2 linked regions of the Homo sapiens genome follow. The protein of the gene in region 2 purifies or fractionates together with the protein of the main gene of each other region. This does not show direct contact. Each region holds a gene or a part of one and is shown on either strand. Other genes may lie near its edges. The genes, in order: GOLGA4 and GBP7.

Region 1 (3,822 bases), on a different chromosome or scaffold from region 2:
TCCCTTTCTCTTTCCTGCAATTTTGTATTTAGCTCACTCAAATGGCTTTCTGTACCTTTTTTATACTGTTCTTCTTTCTCTTCCATTTGAGATAACAACTGCTTCTTAATGGCAGCAATTTTTTGTTCAGCTTTTCTCTTCAACTCTGCTAATTTTGCAGCACTTTCTGACTCAAGCCTATCTTCCAATGCCTTTAACTCCTCCTCTTTGCTTTTCACACTTAAATTCACATGTTCTAATTCTTTCTTCTTAGTTTCAAGTTCAGCTTTCATGGAATAAACTTGGTTTTCAAGTGTTAAGATTTTTTCTTCAGCTTCTTTAACCCTGTTGTCCTTTTCTTCTCCTAACTCTTGAAAATGTTGAAGTTTCTGAACCAATTCTTTGTGTTCAATATCCTTTTGTTGATTGTAATTTTTAAGAACTTCATTTAAGGACTCTATTTCAATAGTTTTCTGGGTAATATGGTCCTCTAATTCCATAATTCTTGCTGTTTGAGACTTTAACTCTGTTTCTAAATTAGACTCCTTTTTCTCCATCTTGCTCTTGTCGTCTTCCATTTCACCCTTTAAACAATCAAATCTTTTATTTTGCTGATCAAGCTCTTCCTTCAATAAATTTATCTGCTCATCCTTTTCATAAGCTTCCTTTGATTTTAACTCAAGCTGGATCTGCAATTCTTTAACAGTGTTTTGATGCTGTGTAAATCTTGACTGTGCTTTCTTCTTCCATTCTGAGAATTTATTGGACCAGTCATCTACCTGCTCAAGAGCAGAAATTTTCTCTTTACTCAGAGTGTCAACTTTAAAAGATAAATCTTGCACCTGATCCAGCAATTCACATTTTTCTTCATCATACTGCTTTCTTAGTGATGAAATGGCTGCTTCTTTTTCGGATAGGCTGATGCTATTTTGAAGCTGAACATTCAAATCAGTTAGTTGTTTACTAAGACTGCTAATCTCAACTTTTTTTTCTTTAAGCTCTTCTTTCATCAATGTGACAGCATTGATGTTTTCAGATAACTCTTTCTTCAACTGTGTTATACAAGACTCCTTTTCAGAAGCAGCCTGTTGCTGATTGCCTCCTTCCTTCTGTAAGGCTTCTTTTTCTGTTACAAGACTTTCAATATCAGCCTTCATGCTCTTAATTTGATTTTCTTTTTCTTCTAACTGATGAGTAGCCTGTTGAAAAGAAATATTTAGTGTATTTTGCTCCTCTGTCAACTGTCTAAGTTGTGCTTCTAATTCAGAAACTGTGCAAGTTTTAATTAACAGTGCCTCCTTAACTTTAGTTGTACGGTGCTGACAATGAGAAATCCTAGAAAGAATGGCATTAGTTTTACTACTACTAATGTTGATTAGCTCATTTGTTTTAGCTTCTAATAAGGCTTCGGTTTTCTTACAGCAAATATCTAGCTGAATCGCTAGTTCCTCAGACAGTTTTTTAAATTCCAAGCTCTTGTCCTCTAGGCTTTTGTTACTTTTTTCATGTGAAGATTTCAAACTCTGGAATTCTTCATCTGTGGTTTTCAACTTGCTAGTCAACTCAGAAACCTTCCGCTTATCTTCTTCTGCCAGCATCTTCAGTTCAACTAGCTGCTCTTGAAGAAAAGTATTTTCCTTCAGAGACTTATTCAAGTCAACCTCTAGCTTTTCAAGATGAGCTTTCAGTTTAGTTTCATCTTGTGCAAGAGAATTCACATGGGCAGACTTCTGCTTTAACTGTTCCTGTAATTCATTTAATGTTGTATCCTGCTTAACACCTTCTTCCTTCAGCCATGTTATTTCCTTGTTCATCTCTTCTTTTTCACACCCAAATAGGAGGATCTTTTGTTTCAGTTCTGCTACCTCTTGTTCTTTTTCCTGTAATTGGATTTCATGTATTTCCTGAAGTTCTTCAGCTTGCTGATTAAGTTTCTTTTCCCAGATTGATATGACATCATTGAGTTCTCGTCGATGAACCTCAGTAAGACTTTCTATTTGTTCTTTTTGGTTTGTTTCCAGTCTTGACACTGCATCACTGATTCCAGCTGAGTTAGCCTGTGCCATTTCCAGCATTTTGGCATTAAACTGTTTTTCTTTCTGACTAAGCTCTAGAGCAGTATTTTCAAGCTCTTTCTTAAGTTTGGCTTCCTGATCCAGTAATTTTTTCTTTAACGTTTCTTGCATCTCCTTTGCTTTCTGCTTAACTTTTTCCATCTTTTTTTCTTGGTTTTTAAATTTGGTTTCATATTCCTCATTCAAAATATGAATACTGTCCTCCTTGGCTGACAATTTCTGTGTGAGTATCTCAATTTCTTTCTTCTGTCCTTCTCTCATTTGTAAAATCATATTTTCCTTTTCCACCAAGATTTGCTTTGTCTGTTCCTGTTCTTTGTTACCATCTTCAAGTTTGGACTCATAGACTTGGGTTAAAGATTTTACTTTTTGCTCCATTTCACTATTTTGTTTTTCAAGTTGCTGCATTAAGTCCTGCACCTGGATTTTGTGAGCATCTAACTCAGTACAAACATCTTTCTTTTGTGCTTCAACTTCAGCAACCTGTTTGGTAAGAAGAATTCTTTCTGTTTCCAAATCCAACAACTTCTGCTGCAATTGGGCCAACTGTTCCTCATATGCTTTTGTCTGCTCATGTGTGGCACTCTGGTAAGACTGAAAAACGTCCAGCTTAGCAGATGCCTGCTGGAGTTCCCCTTCAGACCTTTTAATATCTGCCTCTAAATTTTCTACATGAGCCTGATGCTCTTTCAAATGCTTGTCCCTTTCCTTCAAGAGAAGCTCAAGTTGATTAATTTGATCTTTTAATGCCTTCTCAGTCCTCTGGATAGATACCTCGTGTTCTTTAATGATACTGTCAACTTGCTGCTGGTGATGATTTTTCTGTTCATCCATCTTGGCCTCTAATTCCTGCTTCATTTTATCTGTTTGATCTTTCAGAACAGAAAGTTCCTCTTCTAGTTTGTGACGGGCTTTTAATACTTCTGACAGTTCAGAAGATAATGATTCTAGTTCTGTTTGCTTCACATCAAGCTTTTCTAAAGTCTTTTCATTCATTTCTTCTATGTGGGCCTGGAAGATAATCTCTTTGTCTTTCAACAATGTTTCTTTTTCTTGTTCACACTTTTCCCTAAGTTTTTCCATTTCAGTCTGATATTGTTGCTTTAAGACTTGGAGTTTTTCAGTCCAAAGGGCATCCTGCTGATGCTTAAGGCTTTCCAATTCTGTCTTGTGTTTTTCAACCATGACTGTAATCTCCTTATTGTGCTTATTTTTTTCAGCTTCCAGATGAACAGCCAAATCTTTTGACTGATTTTTGTTTTCTTGTAAGCTTTTTTCCAAAGAACTTTCCAATTCAAGAATTCTCTGTTAATTAAAAACAGATGCATTTTTATTAAAGTACGTACTTGTCTACTAACAATGATACACAGACATGATGTCTACCACCTACCTGAAGATCAAAATTATCATACCAAACACTAGAAAAGACAAAGAATCTATGCTCAATTACTAAAGGAATCATATAACAAAGAAAAGATTATGGCAAGGCACAGTCCAACAGTTTGGGAGGCCGAGGTGAGCAGATCACTTGAAGCCGGGAGTTTGAGACCCAGCCTGACCAACATGGCAAAGCCCTGTCTCTACCAAAACATACAAAAATTAGCCGGGCATGGTAGCATGCGGCTGTAGTCCCAGCTACTCGGGAGGCTGAGGTTGGGGAATCCCTTGAACCCAGGAGGCAGAGGCTGCAGTGAGCCGAGATCATGCCACTACACTCCAGCCTGGGCAACAAAGCGAGACTCCTCTGTCTTGGAAAAAAAAAAAAAAA
Region 2 (3,703 bases):
CCTAAAGCACTCAACAAAGATAATAAATATAACATTAATGTAATCAATTTTTATTAAAAAAAGGCACAGAAGAATATATGATGTGAAATGAGTTATTTTCTAATTTCTCACCTCAACTATTCAGGTTCATTCCTGCTGTGACCATGTATACTAGATAATTTTCTATTTTTCCAGAAGGAGATAATAATATATGCATACATTTATTATTTTCTAAATTCAGTGGTAGTAATTATACATGCTTCGTGCATCATTTTTTTTTTTTACTTATGATACATCTTGGAGACTTGTCATTGTTAGTTCAAATAGAGCTTCTCCCTTCATTTTAGTGGCTGTAGAGTATTCCTTTATGAGTGTTTCCCAAGATTTCCCTTATCAGTACCTGAAAGAGGGGCTTTAATGTTTTTTTCAGTCTTTTGGCATTACAACAATGCTGCAACATAAGTACTATTTTATATATACCATTTTCAATTTGAGTAAATCAATCTATATGATAGATTTCTAAATGTGGAAATGCTAGATCAAAGGTATGTGCACTTAAATATTTCATATATGATTCCAACAGTTCACACTCTCACTAGCAAATATGAGACACTGACAATATCCTCAAACCCTTGCCAGCTCAGTGCCCTGTCAAACTGTTCTTTCAAGCCCATGATAAATTGAAGCAAGAACCTCATAGTTTTTCTTTGCACAACTTTTATTGTCAGTAAAATTAAACATTTTTATTATCATATTTTTGCCTGTTTAAAATATGTGGCGTTACTCTCTTCTCACTGATTTGCAAGAGCTAATTATAACTTAAATTATCTCTGTGACTATAACATTAATTGAAAATAATTTCTTTATATTACCATTTGTCCTTTTGCTTTACTTAAATCTTTTCTAGGAATAATTTTATCTTCTAACTTGTTCCCCATTTCTATTAATTATTACTTTAGTCAAAATTAAGTTTGTTTTTATGAACTTCAGGCCATAATATTCTTTGAAATTTGCTTTTTAATTTTAAACTTTTCTTAAATGAAACTGCAATAACACATATACTTTTAAAATGAGCAACAGCGTTATACCATTTTAACAAAAGAAACCTCAGCTTATAATTTTCTTACCAGGATTTCTCAGCCTATTACATAATGAGCTAAGAATTTTCATTCCTAAATCAACTAGCTTAGCAGCCCCAGGTAGTGCTGCAATAAATATACTGCCAGCCACATCAAGAATCTGTGAAAACACTGAGGGCTCTTCATTTTCAGCTGCTTCAATTTGTTCTTTCAGTCGATTAATCTCTTCATTTAACGACTCAAATATCTCTTTAAATCCTTCAGTAAGCAGTTCTTCTAGGACCTATAAAAGTAAAAGAGCCTACTTTTGAAAATCCCCAATTTTTAAGAGACCGAGGTTTGTATTTAACAATTTCATTAGTTAAACATGTGTCCATTTCTCTAACATCTTAGAAAATCTTTGATGAGTTGGTCTGACATTTCCAGATGACTGGACCTAAATAAGGGGAGTATCCATGATATACACCTTTGTGACATTTCCTCAGCACCATCTCACTGGAGGTGGGGAGGAATTTTGTTCCAGCACAATGAATGCCCTTTGAGAGGGAATGCAGATTTAATTCTAATTGATTCCCCTTTCCACCGATATAGCAAGGCCATGCTCATCTAGCAAATAATGGGGACTGCTGACCCTGTATAAAACACTGGTTGTCAAGCTCCAGTTTGGGACAAGGAATATGTTTTACTCTAGTTGTATAGGATGAGTCAGGCAGATACAGAAACAAATGGAGCAATTTGAGATCATTCAGTATCATTTCATATCAAGCCAAATCTGATACTTTCATCCAGATGGATGTATTTTGGGTCCTTTTGATGGTTGTGCCAAGAATCCTAAGGGCTGGTGGACTAAGGTCCTAATTAATTGGGGCACAGTGAGACCATCCTATAATCACCACAAACAGCAGCCCAGCACCCTGGGGGATGTCATGTGTACTCTCCAAAGTCTAACATGACAGAAAGTGCTGAAGTCTTGTAAACTTACAGGCTTCAGTAGAATTCATATGTATTTGAAATTTAAGTGAAATATATCTTTTGTGTTTCCTTCTGAAATCTTGACTGAGCTTAAAATTTTGGCTCTTCCCTAAATGAGGAACTGGCATTGTGCCTCAAGCACTGCCAAGCTTCATCCAGACTCACCTTCATCTTGTGACTCAACATCTTTCTCAGTTCTCTCATATAGTTTTCCCTTTCCCTCTCCATCTTCTTCTTGAGTTGAGCTATGTTTTCCTGGAAACTTCTCTCTTGAGCCTCCATCATTTGCTGCTGTTCCTTCTGTTTTTGTCTTAGCAGCTCCTGTTCCTTTTCAGCTGCCTCCTTCTTAGCCTGCTTAGCTGTTCCACCGAGGTTTTACAGAGGGAAGAAAATAACAGTCAGGTGGGAGAAGAACCATCATGGCTAAGTAGATGGAGTCAGGAAGAGCTTCTCCCACTGAGAGACCAGACCGTAAAGAAGACTGATAAACTCCAAGCAGGACTTCAGAAGGAAGGCATTGAGAGTTGATGAAGGAAGGATGCAGACCCAAGGCTGAAGGGAGAGGAAGCTGGGAACCTTGCACAGGTTGCCAAGCACCAAGACTCATTCCTAATCCTGAGCAGCTCCTGGGGAAGGGGTGAGGTAAATTGGTGCGAAGTGGCCCACTCTTGCCATGGACCTCTGAAATCCTAGCTTTAGGAGACCCCACAACTCCCATAGATGTTTGAGCTGGCAAAGAGAGCTGCTTGGAGACTTGGTAGGGACAGGACTCTGGCCAGTGTGGAGCCTAGATATTTGGCACAGGAATGGCTGCAGTGGAGCACAACCAGGAACTCCCATCCCCCAAGGCTTGCCATGCCCAGATACATGGCCTTGGCTTTTGTCGACTATTGGTCCTGGATAGAACTGGGCTATCTTGCCTGTGGGACAGATCCAGTATGGTCTGAGCACCTCCCAGTCTGCTAGCCTCTCTCATGGTCCCTGCCTGGCTGCATCCACTTAAAGTGCAATGTCAGATGCCTAACTGAAGCACTTCCCAGCAGCCATCACCATATCTTCTTTGCTGACATACCCTACCTAACCATCATAGAGCTTCAGCAGATGGGCTCACACCAGTGTGCACTCAATGCACCCTCTCCCCACTGTTTTGCTGGCACACACTCGCTTGCAGCCTCTCACCACCGCTTTGCTGGTACACATACCTGTGCAGACCCTGTCAACCTGCCACCACCAATGCACATGCACAGAACCTGCAGCACTACTGCCCTGCTGCTGCTGCTCACCAATGACCTTGGACCCCACTGCCACTGCTCTGAGAAAGTACTTTTGCCAGCACTCCTCATCGGTGTGTTGTTGCCAGTTAACCAGTAGCAAGTTGGCCCCTGCAGCACAGCAGGTGCTTAACCTAGAGGGGCCAGAGAACAAAGCCATGGGCCTGGTCCCAGCCTACTAAGGTTCAAGCCCCCAGCTCAGGAGTGCTGATCTGAGCCTTGGCCCCTTGAAATCATCCAGAAAAAAAAAAAAAAAACCCAGTCAGATGAACCCAACTTATACCAGTTGAATCTTCAAGAGAATAAAACAAAATAAAAGCCAAAAACCCCATGAAAGAAACAGACACTTCAAAGACTAAAGGAATATCAGCCCACACAGATGAGAAAGAAACAGGGACAGAA

Evidence for each region.
Region 1: the proteins of GBP7 (region 2) and GOLGA4 purify together in Homo sapiens (affinity purification with mass spectrometry; one large-scale study listed by BioGRID and IntAct). This does not show direct contact.

Annotation. Positions count from the first base shown.
Region 1 is NC_000003.12:37,323,125-37,326,946, reverse strand, and holds part of GOLGA4 (golgin subfamily A member 4), read right to left. Parts: intron 3,360-3,822; coding exon 1-3,359. UniProt on the Homo sapiens protein: Involved in vesicular trafficking at the Golgi apparatus level. May play a role in delivery of transport vesicles containing GPI-linked proteins from the trans-Golgi network through its interaction with MACF1. Involved in endosome-to-Golgi trafficking.
Region 2 is NC_000001.11:89,131,063-89,134,765, forward strand, and holds the end of GBP7 (guanylate-binding protein 7), read right to left. Parts: intron 2,390-3,703; coding exon 2,196-2,389; intron 1,342-2,195; coding exon 1,087-1,341; 3' UTR 680-1,086; downstream 1-679.